Linked DNA regions of Homo sapiens. The protein of the gene in region 3 interacts with the protein of the main gene of each other region in a pairwise test. Each region holds a gene or a part of one and is shown on either strand. Other genes may lie near its edges.

Evidence for each region.
Region 1: the proteins of MAGEB4 (region 3) and ARID3A interact in binary tests that used the Homo sapiens proteins (3 or more experiments, as listed by UniProt).
Region 2: the proteins of MAGEB4 (region 3) and FERD3L interact in binary tests that used the Homo sapiens proteins (3 or more experiments, as listed by UniProt).
Region 4: the proteins of MAGEB4 (region 3) and USHBP1 interact in binary tests that used the Homo sapiens proteins (3 or more experiments, as listed by UniProt).
Region 5: the proteins of MAGEB4 (region 3) and USP25 interact in binary tests that used the Homo sapiens proteins (3 or more experiments, as listed by UniProt).
Region 6: the proteins of MAGEB4 (region 3) and RUNDC3A interact in binary tests that used the Homo sapiens proteins (3 or more experiments, as listed by UniProt).
Region 7: the proteins of MAGEB4 (region 3) and ZRANB1 interact in binary tests that used the Homo sapiens proteins (3 or more experiments, as listed by UniProt).

Annotation. Positions count from the first base shown.
Region 1 is NC_000019.10:928,795-933,316, reverse strand, and holds part of ARID3A (AT-rich interactive domain-containing protein 3A), read right to left. Parts: intron 4,304-4,522; exon of another isoform or gene 4,172-4,303; intron 4,056-4,171; 5' UTR 3,789-4,055; coding exon 3,421-3,788; intron 900-3,420; coding exon 575-899; intron 1-574. UniProt on the Homo sapiens protein: Transcription factor which may be involved in the control of cell cycle progression by the RB1/E2F1 pathway and in B-cell differentiation.
Region 2 is NC_000007.14:19,143,747-19,147,259, reverse strand, and holds FERD3L (fer3-like protein), read left to right. Parts: upstream 1-1,838; 5' UTR 1,839-1,897; coding exon 1,898-2,398; 3' UTR 2,399-2,478; downstream 2,479-3,513. UniProt on the Homo sapiens protein: Transcription factor that binds to the E-box and functions as inhibitor of transcription. DNA binding requires dimerization with an E protein. Inhibits transcription activation by ASCL1/MASH1 by sequestering E proteins.
Region 3 is NC_000023.11:30,239,991-30,245,061, forward strand, and holds MAGEB4 (melanoma-associated antigen B4), read left to right. Parts: upstream 1-2,009; 5' UTR 2,010-2,145; coding exon 2,146-3,186; 3' UTR 3,187-4,197; downstream 4,198-5,071.
Region 4 is NC_000019.10:17,248,104-17,252,163, forward strand, and holds the end of USHBP1 (harmonin-binding protein USHBP1), read right to left. Parts: intron 3,915-4,060; coding exon 3,808-3,914; intron 3,602-3,807; coding exon 3,479-3,601; intron 2,312-3,478; coding exon 2,122-2,311; 3' UTR 1,068-2,121; downstream 1-1,067.
Region 5 is NC_000021.9:15,872,294-15,876,815, reverse strand, and holds part of USP25 (ubiquitin carboxyl-terminal hydrolase 25), read right to left. Parts: intron 2,414-4,522; coding exon 2,290-2,413; intron 1-2,289. UniProt on the Homo sapiens protein: Deubiquitinating enzyme that hydrolyzes ubiquitin moieties conjugated to substrates and thus, functions in various biological processes including inflammation and immune response.
Region 6 is NC_000017.11:44,310,974-44,315,495, reverse strand, and holds part of RUNDC3A (RUN domain-containing protein 3A), read right to left. Parts: intron 2,917-4,522; coding exon 2,801-2,916; intron 2,393-2,800; coding exon 2,244-2,392; intron 2,079-2,243; coding exon 1,993-2,078; intron 762-1,992; coding exon 672-761; intron 568-671; coding exon 487-567; intron 342-486; coding exon 176-341; intron 45-175; coding exon 1-44. UniProt on the Homo sapiens protein: May act as an effector of RAP2A in neuronal cells.
Region 7 is NC_000010.11:124,969,319-124,973,840, forward strand, and holds part of ZRANB1 (ubiquitin thioesterase ZRANB1), read left to right. Parts: intron 1-2,646; coding exon 2,647-2,800; intron 2,801-4,326; coding exon 4,327-4,398; intron 4,399-4,522. UniProt on the Homo sapiens protein: Ubiquitin thioesterase, which specifically hydrolyzes 'Lys-29'-linked and 'Lys-33'-linked diubiquitin. Also cleaves 'Lys-63'-linked chains, but with 40-fold less efficiency compared to 'Lys-29'-linked ones.

The DNA.
Region 1 (4,522 bases), on a different chromosome or scaffold from region 3:
TGGGGTCCCTGAGACCCCCTGCCGGCCCCAGCCTTAACCGCCCACTCGGAGCCTCACAGGCCCTGGCTCCTGCGTCTCCTGCAGCCACACCTGAGCCACCCCCACATCCCCTCGGCTGCCAGCTGCAGCCCGCAACCCCCCACGGCTCTCCACAGATGCCAGGGGACAGAGGAGGCCAAGTCACCACGTCACCAAGGCCCCGGCCTCTCTGCCCGCATCGCCCGCAGGCCTGGTTCCTCCAACCCAAGCCCAGCTCGGGCCGGCGCCAGCCTCTCCCTCCCAGGCCCACCTTTCCATCTCTGCCCCATCACCTCCGATATGGGGGCCGTGGAGCCCCCCAGGTTTCTCCTACCCGGCCGGGTGCTCCTCACACATCCCACATCAGAGCAATGAACAGCCAGCTGGTCGAGCCCACGCCCAGGAGGGAAGCACAGGAAGCACAGCTACCGCAGGAACCCCCAGCTCTCAACTCGACGCCCGGCTCAGCACACACCCCGTGCAACGTGGGCCTTCAAAGGGCCCCACTGGCCCAGGAGCAGGTGCCTCAGCCGCCACGCGGGACGCGCCCACTCACCTGCTTAAACTGCTCCTCGTAAGTCCAGTCGCCGTGGTCAGGCGGCTGCAGCTGCGGGGCTACGTGGGCGGCCCCTCCGGGGTGGGCAGGGCCAGGCCCCGGCCGCTCCTGGCCCCCCAGCACCCTGGGAACGCCATCGCCGCGGAAGGCCTGGGGTGGCTGGGCCTTTCGGGGGAACAGTGCCGTGGTGCCCAAGCTGGCAGGGCCTGGGGGGCCCAGCCCCTCCTCGTCCTCCTCCTCCTCCTCATCCTCGTAATCCTCCTCCTCCTCCTCCTCATCCTCCCCGAGGTCTTCCTCCATCTCCTCCTCCTCCCATTTGGGCTTCCTGGGGTGAGCAGAGGGCAGGAGTCAGGGGAGAAGGTGCTGGCTCGTCCCAGCCCAAGGAAAGACCCACTCCCCGCCCAGCCTCAGTTTCCCTCTCTGGAAATAGGAAGAGCCGGCCGCCGCCAGCTCAGACTGCAGAGAGCGCTCATGAGCACAGCGTGGGGCACCCGTGACGCCCACTTTGTTTCCAATTAGCCCAGAACAGCACAAGCCGTCCCTACAGCGTGAATTTTGGGGCCTTGAAAAGCATCACGCAGGCAGCCACGGTGGCGCACACCTATAATCCCGGCAGCACTCTGGGAGGCCAAGGCGGGAGGATCCCTTGAGCCCAGGAGATGGAGGCTGTAGTGAGCTATGATGGCACCACTGCACTCCAGCCTGGGCCACAGAGCAAGACTCTCTTGGGAAAAAAAAAAAGGGAATCATTACGGCAGGCTGGTTCCTGCATCCTGCACCATGCATGCTGTCCCAGCTCCACCTCCCCTTCCCTCCACAGGGAGAATTCTCCCACCGCCATCTGAAATCCGCCCCACCCTCGCCACTGCCCCTCCACGGCACCCTCCTAGACTTTCTTGGCAGCCGTTTTTTTTTTTTTGTCTTTTTTTTGAGAGGGAGTCTCGCTCTGTCGTCCAGGCTGGAGTGCAACGGCGCAATCTCGGCTCACTGCAAGCTCCGCCTCCCGGGTTCATGCCATTCTCCTGCCTCAGCCTCCCAAGTAGCTGGGACTACAGGCGCCCGCCACCACGCCTGGCTAATTTTTTTGTATTTTTAGTGGAGACGGGGTTTCACCGTGTGAGCCAGGATGGTCTCGATCTCCTGACCTCGTGATCCGCCCACCTCGGCCTCCCAAAGTGCTGGGATTACAGGCGTGAGCCACCACGCCCAGCCATTGGCAGCTGTTTGTACAACCTGATATCACCTGCTTCTTTGCTGCTAGGTTTTGTTTGGTTGTTTTTTTTTTTTTTTTGAGACACAGTCTCACTTTGTTGCCCAGGCTGGAGTGCAAAGGCACGATCTCGGCTCACTGCAACCTCTGCCTCCCAGGTTCAAGCGATTCTCCTCCTCAGCCTCCTGAGTAGCTGGGATTACAGGCATGAGCCACTGCACCCGGCCAGTTTTGTTTTTTGAGACAGGGTCTTCTCTGTTGCCCAGGCTGGAGTGCAGTGGTGTGATCACAGCTCAGTGCAGTCTTGACCTCCTGAGCTCAAGCAGTCCTTCCGCCTCGGCCTCTCGAGTAGCTGGGACCACAGATGCATGCCACAACACCCGACTAATTTTTGTACTTTTTGTAGAAATGGGGCCTCACTAGGTTGCCCAGGCTGGTCTTGAACTCCTGGGCTCAAGCAATCCTCCCACCTCGGCCTCCCAAAGTGCTGGGATTACAGGCGTGAGCCACTGCGCCCAGCATCTTTGCTTGCTCAGGTCCTCCCAGGAAGATGCGGGTTCCTGGAGGCCAGGATCCCACAGCAAGTGAGCCCTCAGCCAGCCCTGGGGGGACCCACACGCTATGCAGGTCCAGCCGGCTGCAGATTTTATCTGCCCCTGCCGCTGAATCTGCTGTAGCCATCGGTGGCTAGGTTGCTTTAAGTTAACTAAGATGAAACAAAGTTGGCCGGGTGTGGTGGCTCACGCCTGTAATCCCAGCACTTTGGGAGGCCAAGGCAGGCAGATCATGAGGTCAGGAGATCGAGACCATCTTGGCTAACATGGTGAAACCCCGTCTCTACTAAAAATACAAAAAGTTAGCCAGGCGTGGTGGCGGGCGCCTGTAGTCCCAACTACTCGGGAGGCTGAGGCAGGAGAATGGTGTGAACCCGGGAGGAGGAGGTTGCAGTGAGCTGAGATCACGCCACTGCACTCCAGCCTGGGCGAAAAGAGCAAGACTCTGTCTAAAAAAAAAAAAAAAACCCACATTCTTGGCTCACTGCAATCTTCACCTCCCAGGTTCAAGCCATTCTCCTGCCTCAGCCTCCCGAGTAGCTGGGTTTACAGGCTTCTGCCACCACGCCTGGCTAATTTTTGTATTTTTAGTAGAGATGGGGTTTCGCCATGTTGGCCGGGCTGGTCTTGAGCTCCTGACCTCAGGTGATCCACCCACCTCGACCTCCCAAAGTGCTGGGATTACGGGCGTAAGCCACAGCACCCGGCTAAAAAAACCATTTTTCTTTTGAGACTGGGTCTATCTCTGTCATCCAGGCTGGAGTGCAGTGGCACAATCACAACTCAACTTCTGTTCTCAAGGGATCCTCCTGCCTCAGCCTCCCCAGTAGCTGGGACCACAGGTGCACCACCATGCCTGGCTAATTTTTTAATTTTTTGCGGAGATGGGGTCTTGCTATGTTGCCCAGGCTGGTCTCCAACCCCTGGGCCCACGTGATCCTCCCACGTCGGCCTCTCAAACTGCTGGAATTACAGGAAGGAGATCCCGCGACCTGACCCTTACTCCCATTCTGCAGATGAGCAGAGTGACACTCAGAGCCAGTAACAGCCCCCAGAAGGCCCTGCCCCAGACCCCAACTCACATGTCCTCGTCGGAGGCCATGTCCTCAAAGTGCTCCTCTCCTGGCCCTTCTCTGCCTCGCCCGGGTGAGCCCGGTGTCCCCTCCCGGGCCGCGTCCTCCTCCTCCGAGCCTGGGGGCCCATCCTCAGAGCCGCCGGGGCTGGCTGGGTGTCCCAGGCCCGCAGCTGCAGCCCGCATGGCTGCCAGTGCGGCCATCTGAGCCCGCTGCATCCGGGCACTCTCGGGCTCTCTGTCCTCGTCGGGGGCAGCCCGGGCCCGGCCGGGGGGTGCAGCAGGGGGATCGGGGGGCAGCTGCTGCCGGGCCTCCAGCTCCTGGCGCGCCCGCTGCTGCCGCTGCAACAGCGTCTCCATCACGGCCTGTAGTTTCATGGCCCTGCGGCCCGGGCCACCACCACCACCACCACCACCACCACCACGGGCGCTAGGGGTGGGCGGCGGGGGCGGCCCCTGCGGGGAGGGGGCCCGGCCGCACTGCAGCGTGGGGGCCGCGGGGGAGCCGGGGCAGTGCAGGGTGGCAGGGGGCGGGGGCGGGGGCCGCCGGGCTCAAGCTGAAGGCTGATGGGGCATGCCTCTTCCTCACGCTGGGCTCCAGGGGACAGAGGCTGGCATCCGGCTCATTCACGCATTTGCAGAAACCTGAGGGGGAAAAAAGGCACAGTCAGAGCAGGCCTGAGCTCCTCAAGCCCCCTCCTTCCTTCCCCATGAAGGCCCTGGGGATCAGCTCTCATGTCCATCTCATGCAGGATGCAGACCTGGAGGCCTTCTTGGAGGCAGAGGCGCAGGCTCTTCGCATACAGCCTACTGTGGGCCTGGGTAGCAAGGTCGCCCCGCACGGGGCCACAGAGAAACACGCTGTGGCCAGACTGTCTGCCCCAGGAGATCTTGGATTATTGCTTCACAAGCAGGGTGGGGGAATGGGCGTTCCTGGCCTGTGATTGGCCAGCGGGCTCCGGGCCCCAGTCAGGTGGGTTCTAAGTTCCAGTCGCTGCCTGAGTCCCTGTTGGAGCGGCCCAGCCTGGCCTCCAGGTATCTAGGTATCCTCCCATCTCAGGCCAGACTGGAGATTGAGCGCCTGTTGTATACGGGCCCTGGGCTAACCCTCC
Region 2 (3,513 bases), on a different chromosome or scaffold from region 3:
TTATTTATTTTTCAGCCTTCCCTTTGAAAGATGCTTAGCAAAAATCAACTAAGTAACAACCAAAGATCTCATTCTCTTTAACATCTTCCAGGATCACAAATTTCAATTATTCTCTGCCTGAGTTATCACAATTCAAACTGGAGAATGAAGAGTAAACACAAGCAAAAGAAGATAAAATCTATTAAAAGATCGAGAGACACCAGACACAAATGGGTTAAAAGAAGAAGAAGAATTAAAGGTTATACTGTTTTGATTACACACATAGAGGCTAGGAAGAAGAAAATGAATTGAGATTACCTGTTAGAAATAGGCGGTTTCTGGTTTCTGGGAGCTGTCCAATGTACTGAGTGAACCATCATAACCACAACTTACCCCCTTAATAGGGACTGACGTCCTGGGCAGTTCTCTTTTGAACCGGGATGTTTCTACATTCATCTTTTTAGGCTATTTCTTCCAATCTACCTTTAAAATTATCTTCTAATCTGTCACTTTGACACAATGGGTCTTTTAAATAAATCTTTACACAGTACTGAATAATTAAGTAAATATAGTTATTGGCAAACAAAGAAAAAGAACCTTTTTGTTAAAATATTTGGGATACTCGAGATAATATAAAATGAGTAATCTCTTATTTTTCTTATGCCAAATTTAAAATCTCTTTCTTTTCTCAAAAATAACGATCTAACGATAGCCAAAAACTCCCTTAAATATATTTCAATAAATCATTGTTTCTGCACTTAAGTCTTACTGTAGGACAATACAAATCAATGAGGAAAATACGCCAGATGGAAGTGTTAGGTTTTTTTCTTTGTTCGGGAACAAATACTCGATCCGCAATTTAAAAGTCCGAAGACTCCTCAGCAGAGGGTGAGCTGATTGACTCTTTGGCTTATCAAGGGCAAATCGCATTTCTGAAAAGAGCTTGAAGTGGTTTTGTTTGTGAGGAGAGTTTGCTTTGTCCCCCACACTGAAAAGTATACAGCAAAGCCCGAGCATAGAAAATATCCTGAGCTTAAATTTCTCATTTTATTGCCATCATAACTTTTCCTCTTGGAATAAAATCCTCTATTTTATATGAGTAGGAGGTAAAGGTAGGGAAAGGAAAGTCAAGTATCTCAATTGTTACGCTGATTGCATCCAAACAGACTTTAGAAGTCAGGGTTTGTAACGTGGCAGGAGAGCTGTTTGCGATGCCCTGGAAAGAAAAGAAAGCCGGTTCCAACAGCGACTCTGGGGAATGCACTCTCGGTCCCCCTGCCATGCTTACTTAAGCTAATTGAAGGTCTTGCCTTTCAGCAGCCGCTGCACTGGGATACCAGACAAACAGCTCCCCTTGATGCCAGGCAGGCAGGGCCCCTCTTCAGGACATCATTAAAAGCACATGCACTTGCTCCACATCCATTGGCAGATGGTGGCAAGATTCAAGACTCCTACCCTGAAGTCAAGGAGAAGCCATCGCGGTGGAAAACATCCTCGCTTTGAAAATCCAACACGAAATTAAAGAACTACACGAGATAAGGAGCCTGGAGAACATTAGTTGGCTGCAGGGGTGAAGACAGACACAAAAAGCACAGCAGGTAAGAGCTGGGGGTTGTTGCCAACAAGGAACTGTCCCGGGTGGCGCAGAGAAAAGGATCTCAGAACTGGAGCCCTGTCCCTTTGAGTCTTCCATGCGTGCTCAAGCTTGTCATCTTCCATAAGCTTCGAGAGAAGGGACGTTGTCAGAGCATTCCTTATCGGTGCGACTAATCCTGTTATCAGCTTGGTTATAAATATTTAATGTTCCCTGGCCTTTCGGTGATGGTGCCCCATCAGATTCAAGGCTGTTAAGAATCCCCACCAGCAACCTCGCCCCTCCCTGCGGAAAACCGATGAGAGGCAGGGCCAAGCCGAAGCGATGGCGGCCTATCCGGAGAGCTGCGTGGACACTACGGTGCTGGACTTCGTCGCAGACCTGTCCCTGGCCTCCCCGAGACGCCCTCTCCTCTGCGACTTCGCACCCGGGGTCTCCTTGGGGGACCCAGCCCTTGCGCTCCGAGAGGGAAGACCCAGGAGGATGGCGCGGTTTGAAGAGGGGGACCCAGAAGAAGAGGAGTGCGAAGTGGACCAGGGGGACGGAGAAGAGGAGGAGGAAGAGGAGCGCGGAAGAGGTGTCTCCCTATTAGGCCGCCCCAAGAGGAAAAGGGTGATCACCTACGCCCAGCGCCAGGCCGCCAACATCCGCGAAAGGAAGCGGATGTTCAACCTCAACGAGGCCTTTGACCAGCTGCGGAGGAAGGTGCCCACGTTTGCTTACGAGAAAAGGCTGTCCCGGATCGAGACCCTCCGCCTGGCCATCGTCTATATCTCCTTCATGACCGAGCTCTTGGAGAGCTGTGAGAAGAAGGAAAGCGGCTGAGCCTGGTGTGGAGAGTCTGCCCTTCCTCGTCTGGTAGTGCTGGGGTGTGTCAGGACCGGGCACTGGGTGAGGCTAAAGGGCCGGGAGGGAGGCCCCAAGACAGAACGTCTGGTCTTCTGGAGGTCGGGGTCGAGATTGTAAGATCCCCACATGCGCTGAGCAGAGTGGCTGCTGTAGAGTTCATATCTACGCGACCGCCCTAAGTGAAGTCGGGGTCAGGGGCGAGCGGGGAAGTCAGAGAGCGTGAGGCTGAGTCGGGGCCGTTCAGGCTGCTCCTAAGAGCTTCCGTGGGCTGGGTGGGTGGGAAGTGAACCCTCCTCGCAAATGGCAGACTTTGGAGCTTCTATAAAATCTAACCTCTCTTCTTTACATTTTTTTTTTCATAGAGATAATAAAGTAGAAATTCTTACGTTTTTAAAAAGCCTGAAGGGTCGGTGGTACGCCATCCCCAGCAGGCGCTCCAGCGGGCGCCTGCGTGGAGGGTCTGAAGCAGACGCCGCAAGGGTGCGGGGGTGCGAGCTTTTCTGCTAGCCAGAGGGTTCTGCCTGGTCCTCCGAGGCTTGTCCAGGAACTGAGGAAAGGAAAAATGGAAGGCAGAGCAGTCGAGAGGAACTGCTGACAAAGTGCGACCTCTGAGAAGGGACACCCTTCCTGTCTTCCATTCCCTCTCCCTCCCGTCCCTTCCTCTCTCCCGCGCGCAAGCCCTCTCTCTTCCTTTCTCCCTCCCCTTCGCCACCTAGTTGATCCCAGACGGACCACAGCTCCTTGTCCCAGGGCCACAGTGGTGTTCATTCAGTGCCTTAGCCAGAGTGCAAATCTACGCTTTGCATCTAAAGTGCAGCATCAGCTTCCGTGTTCCAGTGCCTTCTTCAGGCCCCAGGCCAGAGTAAGGGGCGAGTGCACTCGGGTCACTCCTGGGCCGCAGGGGGCCTTGGGCGCCCTGCAGCTTCGCCACCAGCCACCGCTACCAACTGTCCCCGGCCAGGGGTTGGGGTATGAAGGGGCCTGGATCTTTCTAGGAGCAGGGCCGCCTGAGCGCGCTCACTTTTACATTTTTAGCTGTAGGTAGGAAAGATAGCTTTCACTCTAATGGCTTCTAGAGACTACCAGGGGAG
Region 3 (5,071 bases):
AATCCACCATAAGACCTCAACCTGTCTACCACAGCTGCCACTCTTGGGAGACCATGGTCAGCTGTGGCCAGATAAGGCCACCCTCTTCCTCCTATCTGATCTCAGGGAGGTGCAGGCCTTTTAAATGGAGAGGTCTTCAGGTCAAAAAAGAGGGGAGCCCTAGGATCTGCTAGGAGCCAAATCAAGGAAACCGAGTGAGAACTGAGGGGACTGCTCACCTCTGAATAGAGAGAGCAACAGAGTCCACCCCCCTGCATAACTCTTAAATTGCCAGGGCAACATGTAAGGCTGAGGACTCACCATCACTTTTTTTTTTTAATAATTGACCTTCTTTTTTAGAATAGTTTTACGTTCACAGCAAAACTGAGCAGAAAGGAGAGTCTCACAGGCATCCTGTCCTCCCACAGACACAGCCTCCTTCATATCAACCTCCCAAGCCAGGGTGATACATTTGTTACAATTGAGAATACATGGACACATCATTATCACCCAATGTCCGTAGTTTAGGATTCATTCCTGTTGCTGCACATTCTGTGGTTTTAATATTTAAAAATGTATAATGACATATGTTTACCACCATAGAATCATCCAGAATTGTTTTACTGCCTTAAAAGTTCTCTGTGCCTGATCTATTTATCTCTCACTCTCCCCAACCTTTGGAAACCACTGAACTTTGTACTGTTTCCATACTTTTGCCTTTTCCAGAATGTCATATAGATGGAATTATGCAATGTATAGACTTTTCAAATTGGCTTCTTTCACTTTGTAATATGTATCTAAGTTTCATCCATGTCTCTTTGTGGCTTGATAGTTCATTCCCTTTTAGTGCTGAATAATATTTTATTCTGTTAATTTATCCACTCTCCTTCTGAAGGACATATTGCTTGCTTCCCAGTTTGGGCAATTATGAATAAAGCTACTATAAACATTTGTGTGCAGGTTTTTTTTGTGGACATACCGTTTTCAACTCATCTGGCTAAATAACAAGGAGCGCACTTGCTAGATCATATGATGAAAGTATGCATAGCTTTGTAAGAAACTTACAAACTGTCTTCAAAAGTGGCTGTATCATTTTTCATGTCCATCAGCAATGACAGTGTGCTCCTGTTGCTCCACATCCTCATCAGTATTTGGGGTTATCAGGGTTTTTGATTTTGACCATTCTTATAGGTATGTAGTGGTATCACATTATTGTTTTAATTTGCAAGTCTCTAATGATATGTGATGTTGACCATCATTTCATGTACGTATTTGCCTTCCATATATATTATTTGTTGAGGTGCCTGTTTAGATCTTTTGTCCATTTTTAATAGGGTTGGTCAGTTCTTATTGTTCAGTTTTAAGACATTTTTGTATGTTTTGGTTAACAGTCCCTTATCAGATATGTCTTTTGAAAATAATTTTTTCCCAACCTGGGAGTTATCTTATTCTCTTTGTGGTATCTTTAGCAGAGCAGAAGTTTTAATTTAGCGAAGTCCAGATTATCAATTATTTTCTTTCATAGATGCCCATCACATTTTATACCAGAACTAGAAAAGATGAAATTCTTGGTCTGAAGTTGCAGTTATCAGTCAGCAGAAGAGACAGTCCACAACCCTGCTTGGAGTCCAGATGAGGATCCTGAGTGCAAACTTGGGACCTAAAGAGCCCAGGACAGAGAGAGCACTAAATGCTTCTAGGCAGGGGTGGTGGGTTGAGGGGCCCCTAGACTTCCCTCATCTGGGTCCCAGAAAACTAAAGAGTCAATTTCACAACACCAATAGAGGGAGGCTCAGGCCCTGCCAAGAGCTGACATGACAATTCTAAAGGTAATCAGAGTGGATCCTCTCCAAGCCAGAACACAGAAAGCCCCACTGCGAGCCTTGTTGTCACCCAGTCAGCCCCAGGCAGGGTTGGCAAGCTGCAGCCTAAGGCACATTGTAACTTCCTCAGCTGGCTTCTCAGGGGACAGAATGACTAAGAACAATAGCCCAGTGAATACTTAGAGCAGTGTTCTCAAGGAATCCTGCAGAGGCGGCTTCTGAAAAGCCAAGGTAGTATCTGCCTGCTGAAGGTGTTCTCAGGATTTCATTTGCTCTTCTCCAGGAACCACATCACCTGCCCTTCTGCCTACACTCCTGCCTGCTGTGCCTAACCACAGCCATCATGCCTCGGGGTCAGAAGAGTAAGCTCCGTGCCCGTGAGAAACGCCAGCGGACCCGTGGTCAGACCCAGGATCTCAAGGTTGGTCAGCCTACTGCAGCAGAGAAAGAAGAGTCTCCTTCCTCTTCCTCATCTGTTTTGAGGGATACTGCCTCCAGCTCCCTTGCTTTTGGCATTCCCCAGGAGCCTCAGAGAGAGCCACCCACCACCTCTGCTGCTGCAGCTATGTCATGCACTGGATCTGATAAAGGCGACGAGAGCCAAGATGAGGAAAATGCAAGTTCCTCCCAGGCCTCAACATCCACTGAGAGATCACTCAAAGATTCTCTAACCAGGAAGACGAAGATGTTAGTGCAGTTCCTGCTGTACAAGTATAAAATGAAAGAGCCCACTACAAAGGCAGAAATGCTGAAGATCATCAGCAAAAAGTACAAGGAGCACTTCCCTGAGATCTTCAGGAAAGTCTCTCAGCGCACGGAGCTGGTCTTTGGCCTTGCCTTGAAGGAGGTCAACCCCACCACTCACTCCTACATCCTCGTCAGCATGCTAGGCCCCAACGATGGAAACCAGAGCAGTGCCTGGACCCTTCCAAGGAATGGGCTTCTGATGCCTCTACTGAGTGTGATCTTCTTAAATGGCAACTGTGCCCGTGAAGAGGAAATCTGGGAATTCCTGAATATGCTGGGGATCTATGATGGAAAGAGGCACCTTATCTTTGGGGAACCCCGAAAGCTCATCACCCAAGATCTGGTACAGGAAAAATATCTGGAATACCAGCAGGTGCCCAACAGTGATCCCCCACGCTATCAATTCCTGTGGGGTCCAAGAGCTCATGCAGAAACCAGCAAGATGAAAGTCCTGGAGTTTTTGGCCAAGGTGAATGACACCACCCCCAATAACTTCCCACTGCTTTATGAAGAGGCTTTGAGAGATGAAGAAGAGAGAGCTGGAGCCCGGCCCAGAGTTGCAGCCAGGCGTGGCACTACAGCCATGACTAGTGCGTATTCCAGGGCCACATCCAGTAGCTCTTCCCAACCCATGTGAGATCTAAGGCAAATTGTTCACTTTGTGGTTGAAAGACCTGCTGCTTTCTCTGTTCCTGTGATGCATGAATAACTCATTGATTTATCTCTTTGTTGTATTTTCCATGATGTTTCTTAAAATAGAAAGTTTATTTAGATTCAGAATATAAATTTAGAAATGGCATGCATCACACATTTATTGCTGTTTATCAGGTTGGTTTAGTGATAATAATTTTGTTTTTGAAATACAAATAGAAAATCCTGAAATAATTTTTGTGATACAGAGCAAAATAACACGGCATGGGAGTAAGGTTATCCTTAGAAATTTAAAATAACTCCACAGTAAAATAGGTAGAATCTGAAGATAGAAAGGGAAGAAAAGTAAAAGTTGCTTTATTCGTGGTTTGTCTTACTCAGTTCAGTCTTTTTTTGCTCATAAATTTAAAAGTTACATACCTGGTTTGCTTAGATTATTCAAGAATGTGGAGGCCTGGGCCAAGGTCAATGACAGTGTCTCCATTGTCTTCCCTCCATTAAGAGAAGACTTTAAGAGATGAGGGAGAGAGAGCCAGAGACAGTGTTGCAACTGGGCCTGGCATGTTTCAGTGTGGTGTCCAGCAGTGTCTCCCACTCCTTGTGAAGTCTGAGGTATATTCTTTACTTTTGATTAAGAAAACACTTAACCTTCTAATTAATGGAGAGCCAAAGGGGAGTTGGTGGGAACACCATGTATAACATATTTGTATGTAAAATGATTTATCTTTTCTTTTTCCTGTTTTTCAGTGTTCTTTTTTTAAATTGTAGATTTATTTAGTTTCAGAATCTAAGTTTATGAATGGCATGAATCACTCATTTATTAAAATATATCAGGTTGGAGAGTGAGAATTTTTGCATTATGTAAAACAATTTAAAAATCTTTTAAGTCTTTTTCTGTGATCTAGAACAAGATAATATGGCATTGGAATATGGAATTTGTGAAAAGGAAATTACCTTGCAATAAAGTTGGTGGGACCAGGAAGTAGAGAAAAAAAAAGTAAAATGTGGTCAATTCTTGCTTTGTTTTATTCTTTTTAGTCTTTCTTTGTAAAACTGAAGTATATGTACCCGGATCTGCTTAGCTTTTTCAGGAATGTGGGGGAAATTAAATAGCAATACATTTGACTTCCTGGTCACTTACACTTCAATTGTCCAAATATTAATTGAGCAGCTGTACTTTGGAGGGCTCCTGGCTAGTACCGGATAAGCTAAGAAAACAAAAAACAAACAAACAACAAAAAAACCCCAATCCCTGCCCACAGAATTTTAGAATCCAACAGCAGCTATCATATAACGAAGGTAATGAGATACTCCTTAAGACCTAAAGACAGGTGAAAAGGGGATAAAAAAGAAGGTGGGGGTATTACCAGCAGTGGAATCTAGTGTAAATGTCCTAAGCAAGGTAACTGAGACTTCGGGAAACTGAACATACTGCAATAGGAGGTAATTTTATGTCCTGGCATAGTGCCTATATGGGGCGCACTGAGCAGGGGTCACACACTCAGATGGTGGATCTCACACTTGAGAGATGGAGACTGGAATGAAAAATTGCCTTTAACAGTTACTTTGGGATTGTGGAAAAACCAGAGGGGATCTTTGCCTGGAGCAGGGATTGAAAGTGGCCGGTGCTCTTGTCCCAGTGCAAGTGAAGTGAATCCAGTACACAAACTAGGTGTTTTATGAGCGTAGTCCCCAGGGTGTTTCTGAGAAATAAAGGTGATACTCCTTTAAGACTGGAAACTCATAAGCCACTGGGCTAATACTCTGCTATCAGCTGGGGAGCCAGAACCCATTCCATTAAAAGGAATTTTTTTTCCTTTCATGTGTTTTTGCAAATTCTAAGGGAGATCTAGATTTTTGATGGTGGTAAA
Region 4 (4,060 bases), on a different chromosome or scaffold from region 3:
GGCCGCAAACCAGGGACAAAGGGGCCTAGGCCCATCTGCTGAGGGGGCACCCGTGGGAATGGCCAGATCCTGCTGGGGCAGCCTGGGAACCTGTCTCCGTCCTCCCACATGTGACCTTGGCTCCCTTTGCCCCTCCACAGGCAACCTGGTGGGACCAGGAACTCAGGTCTTAGACTCTGGGGCTCGGCAGGGTACAGGGAAGAAATTCAGCTTCTCTGCCCCACCCCAACACGAGCAAGGTGGTCTGCCTCCATTTCCCTGCTTTCTTCAAAGTTGGCCCAAGTCCAGGGACAGCGTGTGGGTCGGAAGGTGACTAGCCCCAGCCCTCGCTGGAGGGGACTGTGCTCGCCACCATACTTCTTGTTCTGTTTCTGGGGTCAGGTTGACTGGATTCAAGTCCAGGCCGCTGACTGGCGCTGACCTCAGGCTGACGTGGTCCTGCCCTGGGAGAGGCGGTGAACACACCTGCACAGGTGAGGCCTGGAGCACCTGCCCCCAAGGCTGGGAATGAAAGTCTTTCTAATCCCTGTCTCGGGTTTCAGCTGCCACCCTGAAGGGGGACAGCTGGCCACTAATCCAAGCTTGGCTGGGTCGTTCCAAGCTCCCCTTTCCCAGACTCAGCCAGTCCTGGTGTGGAGGGGCAGGGAGATGTGACTTATGCAAATGACATGCTAATTCATTGCCTGCTATTAACCTGACACGTCCCACAGCTCCTGGGCCCCCAGGAGAAAGCTGGAACTGGCCACCATTGGCATTCATTCTGAGTTTCTCTTGAAGTACAACGCCCCCTGAGTCCCAGACTATTACCTTTGCTATGCCTGTCCCCCACCCAGAAACCCTTTACCTTATTTTATTTATTTATTTTTGAGACAGACTCTCCTATTTTGCCTAGGCTGGTCTTAAACCCCTGGGCTCAAGCAGTCCTCCTCCCTCGGCCTCCTGAGATACTGGGATTACAGGCAAGCTCGACCACATGGAGTCCAGAAACCCTTGACCTTAGCTTTGAGTTAGTAGCAACTCGTCATCCACACCCTGAATCTGAACCATTCCAGCTTCAGTCTCCCTCCTTTTTGTTTTGTTTTGTGTTTTATTTATTTATTTAGAGACAGAGTTTTGCTCTTATTGCCCGGGCACGATCTTGTTGTTGGCGCGATCTCGGTTCACTGCAACCCCCGCCTCTCAGGTTCAAGCAATTATCCTGCCTCAGTCTCCCGAGTAGCCGGGATTACAGGCATGTGCCACAACACCCAGCCAATTTTTGTATTTTTAGTAGAGACGGGGGTTTCACCATGTTGGCCAAGCTGGTCTCAAGCTCCTGACCTCAGGTGATCCTCCCCGCCTCAGCCTCCCAAAGTGCTGGGATTACAGGCATGAGTCACCACGCCTGGCCTGTTTTTTTTTTTGAGACAAGGTCTTACTCTGTGACCCAGACTGGAGTGCAGTGGCGTGATCTCAGCTCACTGCAACCTCCACTTCCCAAGCTCAAGTTACCCTCCCACTTTAGCCTCCTAAATATCTTTATAGGCACATGCCACCACGCCTGGCTAATTTTTGTATTTTTTTGTAGAAATGGGGTTTTGCCATGTTGCCCAGGCTGGTCTTGAACTCCTGGGCTCAAGTGATCTACCCACCTTGGCCTCCCAAAATGCTGGGATTACAGATGTGCACCACTGAGCCCGGCCCCCTTCAGGAAAATCTGCCAGCCAAACCCAGCATCTCCCTGGGAAGGGGCTGCCAGGAGAAGCTCTGTCCAGTCCCCATGAATCCCTCCCTGGGCTTCGGGAGACAGGCCAGTTGGAACTTCAGCTGTGGCTATGCAACCTCACGGACCCCCGAAATGCGTCAGTCCCAGGGACCTGGTCCCATAGCCCAGGTTGCTTCTGGCCTGACCCCACTGATATGAAGTTCACATTCCACTTGGTGCCAGGCCAAAGACACCTGAGTCTTTCTTCATTGCCTGGCCACACCCCATCAGGCCCTGGACACCCATGTGCACCAGCTTCCCTCACGCCAAATGTGCCCCAACATGCCAAATCATGCAACATGACATGATGTCACTCCAGGACAGTTTATGACATGCCACAGCTGTCTGGCATGTCCAGACATGGCTGGGTAAGGGGCCTACAGAAAGGTGTCCCCAAGCTGGGGAGGCGGGAGGGGAGGCCTGGGCTTCCCCAGGGCCCTTGCAGTGGCTTCGAGCACCGCCACCTCCTCGGCCTGCTGAGCCTCCATGAGTGCCATCTGCTGCTCCAACTTCCGGCGTTGCTCTTCCTGCTTCCGGTGGGCTCCTCGGAAGGCCAGGACCAGGGCGCTGGAAGGGGTGGGTGGCTGGGTCAGGAAACAGCCCCCGAGTCCACCCAAGGCAAGGGCCGTGTACTCCCACTCCCAGAATGGGGGCTCTTTCACATTGGGTCTCCAAGGGTCCCAGCTAGCTGGTCTTTTGTTGTTGTTGTTGTTGTTGTTTGAGACAGAATTTCGCGCTTGTCACCCAGGCTGGAGTGCAATGGTAAGATCTCCCCTCACTACAACCTCTGCCTCGAGGGTTCAAGTGATTCTCCTGCCTTAGCCTCCCAAGTAGCTGGGATTACAGGCGCCCACCACCACGCCCAGCTAATTTTTTTGTATTTTTTAATAGAGACAGGGTTTGACCATGTTGCCCAGACTGGTCTTGAACTCCTGACCTCAGGTGATCCGCCTGCCTCAGCCTCCCAAAGTGCTGGGATTACAGGCGTGAGCCACCATGCCCAGCCTGTTTTTTCTTGTTGTTGTTTTTTGAGATGGGGTTTCGCTCTTGTTGCCCAGGCTGGAGTGCAATGGCACAATCTCGGCTCACTGCAACCTCTGCCTCCCGGGTTCAAGCGATTCTCCTGCCTCAGCCTACCGAGTAGCTGGGATCACAGGCATGCGCCACCACGCCTGGCTAATTTTGTATTTTTAGTAGAGATGGGGTTTCTCCATGTTGGTCAGGCTGGTCTCGAACTCCCGACCTCAGGTGATCTGCCCACCTTGGCCTCCCAAAGTGCTGGGATTTCAGGCGTGAGCCACTGCGCCTGGCCCAGCCTGTTGTTTTTTTTTTTTTTTTTTTAGACAGAGTCTTGCTCTGTCACCCAAGCTGGAGTGCAGTGGTGTGATCTCTGCTCACCACAACCTCCACCTCCTGGGTTTAAGCAATTCTCCTGTCTCTCAAGTAGCTGGAATTACAGGCACGTGCAAAGACGCCTAGCTAATTTTTGTATTTTTAGTAGAGATGGGGTTTCACCACGTTGGCCAGGCTGGTCTCAAACTCCTGACCTCAAGTGATCTGCTGGCCTCAGCCTCCCAACATGCTGGGATTACAGGTGTGAGCCACCACACCTGACCGTTACTGCCTATCTTGGGGCAGTGGGGAATGCTAAGGCCCAGAGACAGCCAGGGATACTTCTGATATCCTGGTGGGGGATGGTGCCAGGGGGATTGGGGGGATGCAGAACAGTCCTACCTGTGGGCTTTGCATAAATCCCTGTTCAGCTCGGCACTCTGAGACCGTCTGGCTCGCCCCTTCTGAGCCACCTGTTCCAGCTCCCTGCGCAGAGACTGCAGCTGCTCCTGCAGGTCCAGTGTCCTGTTGCGAAGGAGAAGAGAGGGGGCTCACAGCCCCAGCCGATCCTGTTTCCCAGGTCTCCTCCTACCCACCTGCCCACAGTATTGTCATGTAAACACACCTGTACACCGGGGTACACCTTAGCTTCTACTGCAGACGACACCCCCGGGGGCTCTCACATAGGCTGCCTGCCCACCCCCCGCACAGCCCAGGACCCAGGCACACACCTGGTGAGCGATGCTGCCAGTTCCTGGGCTAACTTCTCTGGGTCCCAGGCTCTGCCCACCTGGCCACCATCAATGCCACTGGTGCCACCAGGGACAGCAGGAAGGCCCTAAGGGAGGCAGAAGACAAGAAAGTGACATTAACCTAGGCCAAGTCCGTGCTTGGCCCACACTGGACATTGGAGCTGCCCAGACAGTGGCAGCTGCTGTGCTCTCAGAGACCCACATCTGGTTCGATATACCAATAAGAGCAAAA
Region 5 (4,522 bases), on a different chromosome or scaffold from region 3:
TTATTTTGATTTTGGAAAGATGGTTGTGCTATTAAGTCCAACTTGGCCATGAATCAATTACCCAATTGATATGGTTAGGCTTTGTGTCTCCACCCAAATCTTATCTTGAATTGTAACCCCCAGGTGTTGAGGAAGAGACCTGGTGGGAGGTGATCAGATCATAGGGACAGTTTCCCCAGTGCTGTTCTTGTGACAGGGAGTGAGTCTCATGAGATCTGATGGTTTCATAAGCATCTGGCATTTCCTCTGCTTGCACTTCTCTCTCCTGCCACCATGTGATGAAGGTCCTTGCTTCCCCTTCACCTTCCGCCATCATTTTAAGTTTCCTGAGGCCTCCCCAACCATGTGGAACTGTGAGTCAGTTAAACCTCTTTCCTTTATAAATTACCCAGTCTTGTGTAGTATCTTTATAGCAGTGTGAGAACGGACTAATACACCAATCGTGAACAGATTAGCTAAATCTGTTAGCTTCACTTTCTTTATATTAATAATAGGGTATTTTATCTTCCAACCATAGGGGTTAAGAGAATAAAATGAGATAAATCTTCAAGTATTTACTACAATTTTTGGAAGTATGCATTAAATGATATATAAAATTTAATGACAAGTTTAATGTTAAGTTCACTGAATCAAAGAATGTCCTGGAAATCTCTTAAATAAAACATGTTCAAAGCCAACCTTGTTCCTCCTATTAGACTCCCTAATATTAAACGAAAAACTAGTAAGTTTGGCAGCTTTGACTCTTCCATTTCCTTCTTCCCACTCACCCAACAGCTATGACATGCCGATTTCATTTCCTTCACCATCATACCTACCGTACTACATGAGTTGAGGTCCTCACTCTCCGTCCCTTGACTTTCCCCTCTAAGGTTCTTGACTTCAATCTACTTCTTTCCTGTTCATCCTCTAGAATGCTATTATTATTACCAGAATTATTTTCTGAAAACAAACCTCATTATGCCAAACCTAATCAAACTTACACTGGTGCAAACTCATTTGAATGTCATCTAAGTTTCTTCATCATCTGACATCGACAAGTATTGTCAGCTTCATCACTTCCACCTTACCCCACTTCCTCATAACCTGGATAGCCACAGTGAATTTATCTTGATTTTCTGTTGTGTACTGGAATATTCTCCCTTCTCTATCATGAATAAAACTTCTATTTATCCATCAAGATCCAGACGAGGTTTACCTTGTCTCTTAAGGTTCTTCCCAAATATTTCAGGCATATCATTGTGCATATTTCTCATAATGGCACTTATTCCAGAACAAACAATTATGTCTCCTACCAGACTGAGTTTTCTGAGGACAGGAAGTACATCTTACTCATGTTTGTATCCCTCAGAACCTGACACTTTGTAAATATACAACGTGAAAAAATCTGAAAGGAACACTAAAGTAATCTTGACGAGGTTTCATTTCAATTCCTATGTAAAACAAATAACCAAATGTGGCTGGGTTACTACAAAAAATGATGAGAAACATTATACCATTTTTTGAAGGTTTCAGAGGAACCATCAGGTTTTGGTTCTATGTATGTTTAAAGTCAGCTATACTATTCTTGTACCTGAAAATTCAATTTTTTAAGTTAAACAAATTACTCTAATACATTCTATGTATATTCTTGTTTTTTTGAGACAGAGTCTTGCTCTGTCACCTGGTTGCCAGGATGGAATGCAGTGGCGCGATCTTGGCTCAAGGCAACCTCCACTTCCCAGGTTCATGCGATTCCCCTGCCTCAGCCTCCTGAGTAGTTGAGACTACAGGCGCACACCACCATATCCAGCTAATTTTTGTGTTTGTGTATTTTAGTCGAGATGGGGTTTCACCACGTTGGCCAGGATGGTCTCGATCTCCTGACTTTGTGATCCACCAGCCTCAGCCTTCCAAAGTGCTAGGATTACAGGCATGAGCTGCTGCGCCAGCCTGCATATTCTTATAGACTTACATAAAACATTTTTTAAGGCTTATCTATGCATCCCTTCCTCTCCCACCAAAAAAAGGAGTGGTAGTGTGATGACGAAATCTAAATACAGAAATGTAAACAAACTGATGCTATTTTAAGAACATTTCTCATTTATCACCTATAGTACTTGGGATTCATAAAGAGAAAAGAATAAAGTACTGAGTGTACTTTTCCATCTGAAGGGACTAGAACCAGTTTATAGACATCATCATGTTCTTATCCCCTCAGAGTTTATGGAGTCAATCACTTATATATGAGTCTGGAAAACTTGCCCAATGTCAGACAAAATGATAAGATCATACTATATGCATTCAACTTACTAGCAAACATTCTCTTCTATAATGTGATATCAATTCTTCATCATGTCCTCTGTATAAGCCTTTAGACAAGAGTTCTTTGTTATTCTGATAAGCACAGATGAGGAACAGCAAGGAATCTATATAACTTGAAAATTAAAAAGAAACATATAACATTAGTATTTCACCTTTGTAGAAACAAAGTCAGCTATAATTATGAAACATTTTAAGTATATGCTTAAGTTTTGATAATCTACATTATAATAAAAAATATCATCTGACGCAGTGTATGCTTGAGAGCGCCTTTTTAGCAACAGCAACATCTGAAACCCAGAGATAGTTATCTTAAAAGTAAAAAAAGAAGAGCTATAAATTAAGAAAAAATCTGGGAAAAGAGGCAATAACTGATAAAGTCAGATAGTTCTGTTTTCCTTGGTATTTATTTTCCTGATGTCTTCCATTTAAACTCAAAATTGGAGCTAATGTGAAAGCCAACAATCTAATTGTTTAACGCAATGTCACATTTATATGAAGTAAATGATCACAAACATCATTTGGTTTGTTCAATGACAACTTAGACAGGTTCTTTTCTATGTGCAGACAGTTTTAGTTACTGAGAAAAATGTAAAAAAAAAATAGAAATAAGAATATCTAAAGGAAATAGAGGAAGTGGACAATGAAAGATTTCTTCTAAATCTGGGAAACCTAGTGGAATAAAGCAAAAACAAAAAGCCTGCAAACATAAAAAAGCTGATAGAGGCCGGGTGCGGCGGCTCACACCTGTAATCCCAGCACTTTGGGAGGCTGAGGCAGACGGACCACCTGACGTAGGGAGTTCGAGACCAGCCTGACCAACATGGAGAAACCCCGCCTCTACTAAAAATACAAGATTAGCCGGGCATGGTGACACATGCCTGTAGTCCCAGCTACTCGGCAGGCTGAGGTAGCAGAATCCCGGGAGGTGGAGGGTGAGGTGAGCTGAGATCACGCCACTGCACTCCAGCCTGGGCAACAAGAGCAAAACTCCGTCTCAAAAAAAAAAGAAGTGATAGAATTAGGCATATGTGTTATATTAATGTAAGTCTAGATATTATGAAATTCAAATTAGGTTTTAAAAAGGGAAGAAAAGGGGCCAGGCACAGTCGCTCATGCCTGTAATCCCAATACTTTGGGAGGTGGTGGTGACAGGATCAGCTGAGGCCAGAAGTTCAAGACCTGCCTGGCCAACATAGTTGACACCCCCATCTCTACAAAAACATTAAAAAAAAAAAAATTAGCTGGGCATCGTGGTACATGCCTGTAGTACCAGCTACTCAGGAGGCTGAGGAGGAAGGACTTCTTGAGCTGAGAAGGTAAGAGGTTGTAGTGAGCCATGATCATACCACTGCATTCCAGCCTGCGCAACAGAGCAAGACCCCAACTCAAAAATACAAAACAAAACAAAAATGGAAGAAAAAAATATTTAATAAAGAATTACTTTTACCTCAAAACTATCCTTCTAACATGTCAAAATAAAAACTATATCTAGCCAAGTATTTGTATAACTGAAATAAAAAATATTATTTTAAAATATTTCCTTTGCGTCAGTTTTTCATTAATATATTTTTTCACAGATTAATATGGAAAAATATATTTTAAAAAATGAAATATTGTAAAGAAACACAATTTTAAACTCTAGACGCTCCTGCCAATAATTACTGTTTATTACTTAATTCATGTACTTAGATACAAAATAAATCCATTCCACATCCCAAATGTTAAATGTAAAATTATTTAAAAATTAATGTATACATTCATGGCAAATCAAATTACACACCTGAAGGTGTCATGATAAATAGGTCTATTTTATACATTTTTTGAAAACGGCTTTCTAGGAATTTGTTTTTGAGATTAAGTATAACATTTTATTTTGAAATGATATTAGGTTAATAAACATATTCTCAGTTAAAGATGTTATTTATGAAAAACGAAGGAAGTGATAATATTAAAAGTTGTTTTACAACATTAAGTTGTAGTAGTTCGTTAATTAATAAGTAACTAGCACATCTATCTTTTCCTTTATAGCTACTGAGTTTCCTGTTAAGAAGATCTCTCCTGAATGACACTGACATCTGGCTTTCTAGACCTGAGTCACCTCTTTGAGAATTGCTCTGAAACCATGACCTTGTTCCAATTCTCTACTGAGGTACGCAAAATGTTCCATATGTTATCAAACTTTAAAGTGCTTACGAATGTATATTCAAATAAATTTAGAATA
Region 6 (4,522 bases), on a different chromosome or scaffold from region 3:
TTCAGCTGCGACTCGCGCAGACGCACCAGCTCCTCCAGGTAGCCCTGCGGGGCGCCGGCTCAGCCCGGGCGGCTGGGAGGACGTCCCGGCCGCGGCCCCCATCCCCGCCCCGCCCCGGGATGCCCGGATCCCCCGCCCGGCCCGCCCGCCCCCCGGGCCCGCCGGCGTCGCGCACCTTCTGCGCGTAGACGATGCGGAACTTCTGCTCCATCTTGTGCCACTTGCTGTACCAGCTGTCCTCATCGGTGACGAGCGGGAGGTACGGGTGCTCGGGCGAGTTGTCCTCGCTCGTGCTGCTCTCGGCGCTGTGCCGCTCCTCCTCGTCCGTCAGGTAGTCGTAGCTTGGGAGAGGGAGCAGTGGGCACGGCCGGTCCCGCCCCTCCCCCCGCGCGTCTGCGCTGGCCGCTGAGGGCGGTGGGACCAGGACGTCCCCAGGATGTCCCGAGGCCCCGTCCCCCGCCCCGCCGCAGTCATGGAGCCGCTCACCTCTGCGTGAACTTTAGGTAGGGCGTGTAATCGATGACCACGGGGGTCTTCCCGTCCAGGACTTCCCCCTTTAGACAGAAGCTGAGGCAGAGGAGCCACAGGGTTGGAGGTGGGTGTGAGGGGTTGGGGTAGGACATTTATGGGGGAAACAGCCCCCTCCACCACTGCCGTCAGGCAGACCCCACCTGAAGTCGATGGCGCTCAGTCCGATCAGCATTCCGGTGAGGATGGTGGCTTCATCCCGCAGCATGATGGCTCCAGAGTCATAGAACCGTCTGTGGGGAGGCAGAGGGCCAGAGGATGCAGCAGGCCCCTGGAGCGCCCCCCCCCCCCCCAGAGCTGCTATTGTTGGCTTACTGCCACCCCATCCTGAAGGAAGGCCAATTCTCCTTCCTGATCTGCACGCAGGCCTGGAGCCTCTCTCCCCCTTCAGCCTGGGGCTCGCACCTGTGGCCCCATCACCTAGAATGGGTGTTCCCTGAGCCGACTCCTCCCTCTGAGCTACCCCTTCCTCATCAAGTACTGGGTTACCCAGATCCTTCATATCAGGAAGCAAGTCTTAATCATTAGTGCTTGGTATACAGTAGGTGCGCAAAAAACGTGTTAACTTGAAACGTGTAGACTGAGGAATGGAATTCAGTAAAAACATCAGGCTGGGTATGGCCAATTGGGATGGGGAGGTATATGCCCCCCGCCACACCCAGACAGCTTCAGATGCACCTGCCCACACAGGCACACTCCTCCTTGTAACCCCTTGCCTCAGGCACCCAACCTCCCTGTGAACCCACAGTGCAGGGATTGAACTCCCCATATAAGGACTCTGTGTCCGTGAATAGCAAGTACAGAACTGCTTTCGTTGTTTGGAGAGACAGAAGGGCTGTGTTGTAGATCATGGAGCAAGCCAACACTTGAGATGGTGCATGGCTGAGGCTCATCCAGAGGTGTGCAAGGGTGGAGCGTGCTGGGCATTGATGGCAAATAATGGGCATTAGATTTGACTTGCAAGTGGTGGTGGTGGTGGTGGTAAAAGTTTGTCCTGGGGCCAGGAGCGGTGGCTCATGCCTGTAATCCCAGCACTTTGGGAGGCCAAGGCGGGAGGATCACCTGAGGTTGGGAGTTTGAGACCAGCCTGACCAACATGGAGAAACTAAAAATACAAAATTAGCTGGGCATGGTGGCGTATGCCTGTAATCCCAGCTACTCAGGAGGCTGAGGCAGGAGAATCGCTTGAACCCAGGAGGCGGAGGTTGCAGTGAGCCGAGATCGCGCCATCGCACTCCAGCCTGGGCAACAAGAGCGAAACTCCTTCTCAAAAAAAAAAAAAAAAAAAAGAGTTCGTCCTGGGACTGCAGGCCAGGCTGGAAGAGGGAAATCAGCCATGTGTGCTGGTGCTGGGACTTGTAGTCCAGGAACTGAAGGATGCTGCAGGAACTTAAGGATCAGCTGTGTTTGGGCAATGCAGGTGCACTCTGAGACCTGTGGTCTGAGTTGCCTGGGAAGTCTGACCTGGTGGTCCGGGTGTCACGCAGAGCCGTGGTGATGTATTCTGACATGCGCTTCTCCATCAGTGCCACCCGGATCCATGCCCGGCCCTGGAAATCATGTTCACCTTTACTTGCTGCCCCAGAGGGACTCATGTGTCCAGCATCAGGTGTGGGCCCTTCTCCCCTGGGCTGTGCACAGGGGGCAAAAACCAAGAAACAGGCAGGCCCCCTGTGTCCAGAGCAGAGAGCAGTTGCTTGCTTCAGGCCCCTCACCTTGGCCCGGGCTGTGCTGATGTTCTCCATGTTCTCGATGCTGCTCACACAGTTGTTGGGCACTTTGCTGCAGGCCAGCCGGATATAGTCCCAAAAGCCCCGCTGCCCGTCTGAGCTGAACCAGCTCACTGGACCTGCTGGGGCACAGGCTGAGCCAGGGCAGGGAGGGGGCTCAGCAAGACCAGGGAGTTTGGAGAGGGTCCATGTAGTGAGGCACTCACATGCATAAGCATAAGCAGCCTCCTCCCACAAAGATCTGTGCACACACATGCACGTGTGCAGTGGGCACCCCAGCATATCGCTTGCCCATGATGGGGATTGTAGGCCAAAGGCCTCTCCCTCTTCCCAGATCTGTACACAAGCTTCTGTGCATGGCCCAGAATGGGGGCCAGGGTCAATGAGGGGGTTCAGAGTCCATGGAGTATATCAGAAAGAGGTGGCTGGGAGCTAAAGGTTGGGAGTTGGGGAGGGACCGCTGGGGGAGGGGCGCTGGGGGAGGGACCACTGGGGGAGGGGCGCTGGGGGAGGGACCGCTGGGGGAGGGGCGCTGGGCCCACCTTTGAAGCGGTGGCTGAGGATCTGCTCTAAAATGGCTGCAAAATTGACAAACTCCTCCGATGAGTCATCGATGGGCTCCGCTGTGTACTTCTCCAGCAGCGTTTTCACAGAGAACCTGGGCGGCGAGGTGGGGAGATGGGGCAGTGGGGTGTCAGGTGAGGAAACAGGTGATGGAGGGAGAGACAGGGAGCAACCGGCAGAGAAGAAAGGTCAGGAAGGGCATGGATGTGGTGGGGGGCAGAGCGAGTGGGGAGACAGGCAAGACTACAGTGACCATAGAGGTACCGTGTCATGTGGAGTGAGAGGGTGGCAGATGGGGAGGAAGGGTGACAGGTGGGAGACTGATTGACAAAGTGGGTGACAGGAGAGGTGACAGCCAGAGAAAGGAAGCTTCGGGAGCAAGGGGTGAGAGGGACTGAAAAAATAGGAAGATGAGGCACAAGCCGGGGGCGGTCCAGGAGCCCCTTCCCCATAGACCACCCTTCAGGGTCTGTGTGTGCGAGGCCTGGGTCAACTAGGTGTTAGAAGCCAGTGTGTGCCCCACCTGAGCTGTCTTCTGTGATTGCTGGAGCAACCTTCAGTCCCTTTTGGGGATGGGGGTCACCTGTACCAGGGCATGTGAGTTGGCACTGTGCACATGGAGTGTGGGCATGCGCAGGTGGCCAGGTGGGCTCCCAGTACACAGATACCCCCTTCCCCCCTTTCCTTCCCGGCTTGGCCTCCCACACACCAGCTGCCCAGAACCAGGCAGTGCAGAGCTGGGCGGGGGTGGGGTGGGGAGGTGCGGGGTATGGGCCTGACACAGACACTGGGCAGGAGGGGGCATTGGCAGCAGATCCCTGGAAGGGGCTTGGGGGCCTGGCTTCTTTGGGAGGAAGGGACTAAGGGAAGCCTGTGGGGCTGAAGGACTGAAGCCATGCAGTGCCCCCTCTCCAGTCCTGTCTAAGCCTCAGGCTCCCTCTGCAGTCACTACCCCTGCAATCTCCCCCTGCCATCCCTGCAATGGAGTAGGGCAGGGATGAGGACACAGTTCCTAACATCCCATGATTTCCCTGCTGTGGGTGGCAGAGCAGGGGCGGGGTGTCCAGGGAAATGGGAGCTGCTTGGAAATGTCCTTTTCTTCTTATATTTATCAAGCCCTATAATGTGGCAAGCACAGTACTTTGCATGCATTCCCTTACCCATGCTCAGCCCTGAAAGGTAGGTCCTCTTAGTATTACTCTCATCCCCATTTTACAGGTAAAGAAATTGATGGTCCAAGAGGTTGACTGATCTGTTCGGAGTCACATGGCTTATGAGTAGTCAAGCAGGTATGTCTGATTCTGATTCTGAAGCTTCTGCTCTTTCTGCTACATCTGTGGCCTCCTGGCAGCTGTTGTGATGACCAAGGCCTGGAGCAGCCCCTGCTCCACCGCCCTTTGTCCTCTACTCTGCAAGTCTCCAGCCTTGGACCACTGACCTCTGAGGCTCTCAGGCCAATTGCACAGCTGAGCCCTCGTCCCCCTTCCTTTTGAACTTGGAGTTGAACTGCCTTGAGATCAGAGCCAGGTCAGTCTTGGGGTTGCACTAGAGGGAGGCAGCCTGCTGGATTCAAATCCTGTTTCCCTGTGGCACTCACGTGGCCTTGGGCCCCTCTGTGAGTCCCTTCTTGTCAAATGCAAATGGGAACAATCGTACCTGCCTCATTACATTTTGGTTGAGAGCCCAGGCAGGGTTGGGAG
Region 7 (4,522 bases), on a different chromosome or scaffold from region 3:
AGGCAAAGAGCAAAATTGGTCATGGATTCAGTCTCCATGGAGTAAATACTCCAAAGGACAGAATTAAAGGGGCCAGTAGGGAGACTGGAAGTGGGGGAGTCTGGACTAAGTCTAGACTAAGGGGGTGTGTTGCAGAGAATGCTCAGCCAAGTTCTTTTGGAATGAGAACAGGAGAACATTAGAGTTGGGGATATGTATGTGGGGCAGGAATTTTCATCGGTTTCTGTGTCATGGACCATGTTGGTAGTTTCATGAAACTTATGGACTCCTTCCCAGAATACTGTTTTTAAATACAAAAAATAAGAAGTAAATGAGATTACAAAGGAAATCAGTTGTATTGAAGTAATAGCTACCAAAATACTAAACTAAATTTGTGATATATAAGAAAATACATTTTAATATAGGTAAAAAGTTGGGGATAATTGATTTAACTTGAATTAAAACCAAATTCCCATTAAAGTACATGGACCATTCCCAAGATCATGGACCCTAAGTTAAGAACTCCCAGCCTACGGAGATGGTTGAGAACCATAAGGTTGAAGGAGGTGAGAAGGTGAGTGGCAGGCTTCAGGGGCACATCCTGCTTAAGGATGGTGGTGGAAGGGGTTGTTTGGGGGCTAAGTTTCTTTTAGAATGTTTGTGGTAGTCAGGGTCCAGTCCAGGTGGTTTTTGGAAAGGTCTTTCCAGGTTTTTGGAAAGGGCCTGAGAGCTAGCTGATGGGAATAAGCTATTTTTGAATTTACTTTGGGGGAGCCATTTTAACTATGTTACTTGAGAAATAGTCAATTATATTCTGAAAATATTTAATATTTGGTTTTCCATGTTTGAGTGTTGACTAATGGTTGGGCTCATGGAGTTAAGATATAGTGAGAATTTTCATGGTTAATGGTAATCTTGGCCAATAAAGTCTAGTTGAACTGAATTTCCACGTAGGAGTTTTTAAATTTTTTATTTTTTTCTTTTCTTTTGAGACAGACTTTCTCTCTGTTGCCCAGGGGAGTGATCATGGCTCACTGCAGCCTTGACCTCCCTGGCTCAAGTGATCCTCTCACCTTTCAGCCTCCCCAGTAGCTGGGACTACTGGTGCATGCCACTAATGCCTAGCTAATATTTTGGGGTTTTTTGTAGAGGCAGAGTTTCATTATGTTGCCCAGGCTGGTCTTGAATTCCTGAGCTCAAATGATCCTCCTGCCTTGGCCTCACACAGTGCTGGGATTACAGGTGTGAGCCACTGCACCAAGCTGCAGTTTCAGAATAGGGAGTCAGGTAACTGTGCTGGGTATGCAGGGTTTTTGAAATATTATTTCTTTAATAGCAATAGCAGTTAGTTGTCTGCATATATGATGTAGATAACATTATCATTAAACCTTACTCTTTGAGAAGAAGAAGAAGGGGCTGGAAGACCTGTTGCTTCACACCCCACTGTGGCTGGAAGGCTACCTTTGGGATAATCGTCCAGGTTGGTGACATCAGGGAACAGGCTCACTGTGGGTTCCCACGGTATTCTCTTTGGGGTTTTTTTTTTTTTTTTTTTTTTTTGGCAGAGTCTCTCTCTGTCACCCTGGCTGGAGTGCAGTGGCGCGTTCTCAGCTCATTTCAACTTCCTCCTCCCGGGTTCAAGTGATTCTCATGCCTCAGCCTTCCAAATAGCTGAGACTACAGCTAATTTTTGTAGTAGTATTTTTAGTAGAGACAGGGTTTCATCATGTTGGCCAGGCTGGTCTCAAACTGCTGAGCCGAAGCAATCCACCCGCCTCGGCCTCCCAGAGTTGGTGGGATCACAGGCGTGAGCCATTGTGCCTGGCCTTGAATTCTGTTTGTTACTCGCAGATGCTCAACTGTGATTTTAGAATTCTGTGTATGTATTTTTATTTAGCTCCACAAACTAGATATGACTGAAATGTGAGGTTAAATTAAATCTTTGCAACATTTGTTGCTATTTAGCATTTTAAAAAGAATAAAAAAATAACAAAAGAAAGTTCTAGCCTTCTTTGGTTTGTTGTTTTCTTGCTTAGAGGCCTGTGCAGTAGTGCTCCCATCTCACTCCTGTCAGGCTGAGCTTCAGAGGTTGGCAGTCTGTGTTTAAACTTGCAGATGCCAAATGCTTTTTTAAAAACTCAAGAGTGGTAACAAATGGAGAGGAAGAAAGGGCTTGAGGTCAGTGGGAACTAACCCTTTAAATACCGTGCTTTTTTTAAGTCCAAGTTAGGGTACTTGAAACTTGTGGTGTGGGAGAAGAGTATTTGCAGTTTCCCTTTATCAGCTGTGATTCTCTGCTTCTAAAGAATGTTTTTATTGTGTGCACGATGGTTAGTCTACTGAGGTTTTCTGTCCTCTCTCCTCTTCCTGTGATGTGTCTATGAACAACACCCTTTTCCATACATTTTTATGTGCATCTTTGAGTATTTCCTTGTGATAAATTCTTAAAGAGAATTACTGAATCAGAGGATAAAACATTTTTGTGACTGTTACTGAAAACTTATTCTGGTATATACTTTCATTGGTAAGGAAATAATACCAGTGTATTTTAAGATTAAAGAAAACCTTGAGTTATTGGGAAATTTTGCTGATTTCTTTTAAATACTGTTGTTTTCTGCTTCCACTTATGATACATGAGATGAGAGGAAGGTTTCTTTTGTATTTAAGGTGTCTCAACAAGCAGCAAAGTGTATTCCAGCAATGGTGTGTCCTGAACTGACAGAACAAATCCGGAGAGAGATAGCTGCCTCTCTTCATCAGAGAAAGGGGGATTTTGCTTGCTATTTTCTGACTGACCTTGTAACATTTACATTGCCAGCAGGTAACTCCAAAATCTAACGTAAAAAGACTTTTTTATTTTATTATAGTTACATTTGTGTATGTAGGTGAAAAATGTTTCTGTTAGAAAGCACATAACATAGCTACTGTATGTGCATCTTAAATTACTTGACTGTCTTATATATGCTGGAAGTGAGCATACAGAGGATTACTTGTTAGGAAATGCGTCTGCTATCTGAGAGGAAGACAGCAGTTGATAGTAACGGATTTCTTTGTGGACCTCAGATTATTTTTTAAAAATCTGTTGTACTCTTTTATTTTTCTCTTTGGTTTTATTTTAGAATATCCTTTAAAAAAATCTCCTTTGAAAAATTTTCCCTTTTCATGCTTGTGTGTTATTTGAAATTAGATAGCTATATTGGTTACCTGGTATTAAGAGATGGGATTAGAACATGAGCTTTTGATGGGTAGAGTCAGGTTATTTGAATTGAACACACTGCATCCTCTTGAATATGTCATTCCTTTTTTACTCATTTATTTCTACTATGTTTGTGAAGGAACTTTTCATTTTTCAATTCATTGACAGTTGAAAACATCCTCCAGAATGCGTTTTGTCAGTTGGCATTGAATAAATACACCAAACACCAAACGTTTCTAAAATCTTTCATCTGAGATTCTGAGATCTGTTTGTTTTGTTGCTGTTTTTTTTTTTTTTAGATTGAAACGGGGTCTTGCTCTGTTGCCCAGGCTAGAGTGCAATGGGCGTGATCATAGCTTACTGCGCCTTCAACTTCTGGGCTCAAGTGATCTCCTGCCTTGACCTCCTGAGTAGCTAGGACTATAGGCACATGCCACCCACCCCTGGCTAATTTTTAATTTTTTTGTAGAGATGGAGTCTCGCAGTATTACTCAGGCTAGATCTCAGTGTTTTTAATTTTTATGTTCAGACAAACGGATTTTTACAAATTGTAGGAGATAGTAACTAAGTTTTCTGAAACTGGAGGAAGTTTCATTTGAAATGCACTTGTTCTGAGTATTTAAGCTTACCCCAGAATGATTAGATTTTTAAAAATTTATTTTTTATTTTTATTTTTTGAGACAGGGTCTTACTCTATCGCCTAGGCTGGAGTGCGGTGGCAGGATCACGGCTCATTGCAGCCTTGGCCTCCCCAGGCTCAAACAGTTCTCTCACCGTAGCCTCCTGAGTAGCTGGGACACAGGTGTCTGCTGCCTTGTCTGATTAATTTTTGTATATTTTTTGTATAGAGACAGGGTTTTGCCGTGTTGCCCAGGCTGGGCTCAGAATCCTGAGTTCAAGCAGTATGCTGGCCTCAGCCTCCCAAAGTGCTGGAATTATAGGCGTGAGCCATTGCACCCGGCCCAGAAAAGAAATATTTTATATCACACATGTTACACTGGTATATTAAGAAAAAGCTATCTGATAACCTTCAATGGAAAGGGAGTTATTTTAGAGAAAGTTACTAGTAGGTAATTAATAAGTGTAATTAAGTATAAGTTAAGTGTAAGTTATGAAACAAAAGATCTTTTAAGTTTGCATTTTCTTTGTAGATATTGAAGATTTGCCCCCAACAGTCCAAGAAAAATTATTTGATGAGGTGCTTGATAGAGACGTTCAAAAAGGTAAGCATGGAATTAATGAGTATAATTTACCTTTCATCTGATCAAGTAAGTTTTGTTTAGTAAGGCATGGTGTAGTTTGGTGTGTAGTCAACTTGCTTTATTTTTATTTTAAATTAAAGACGTA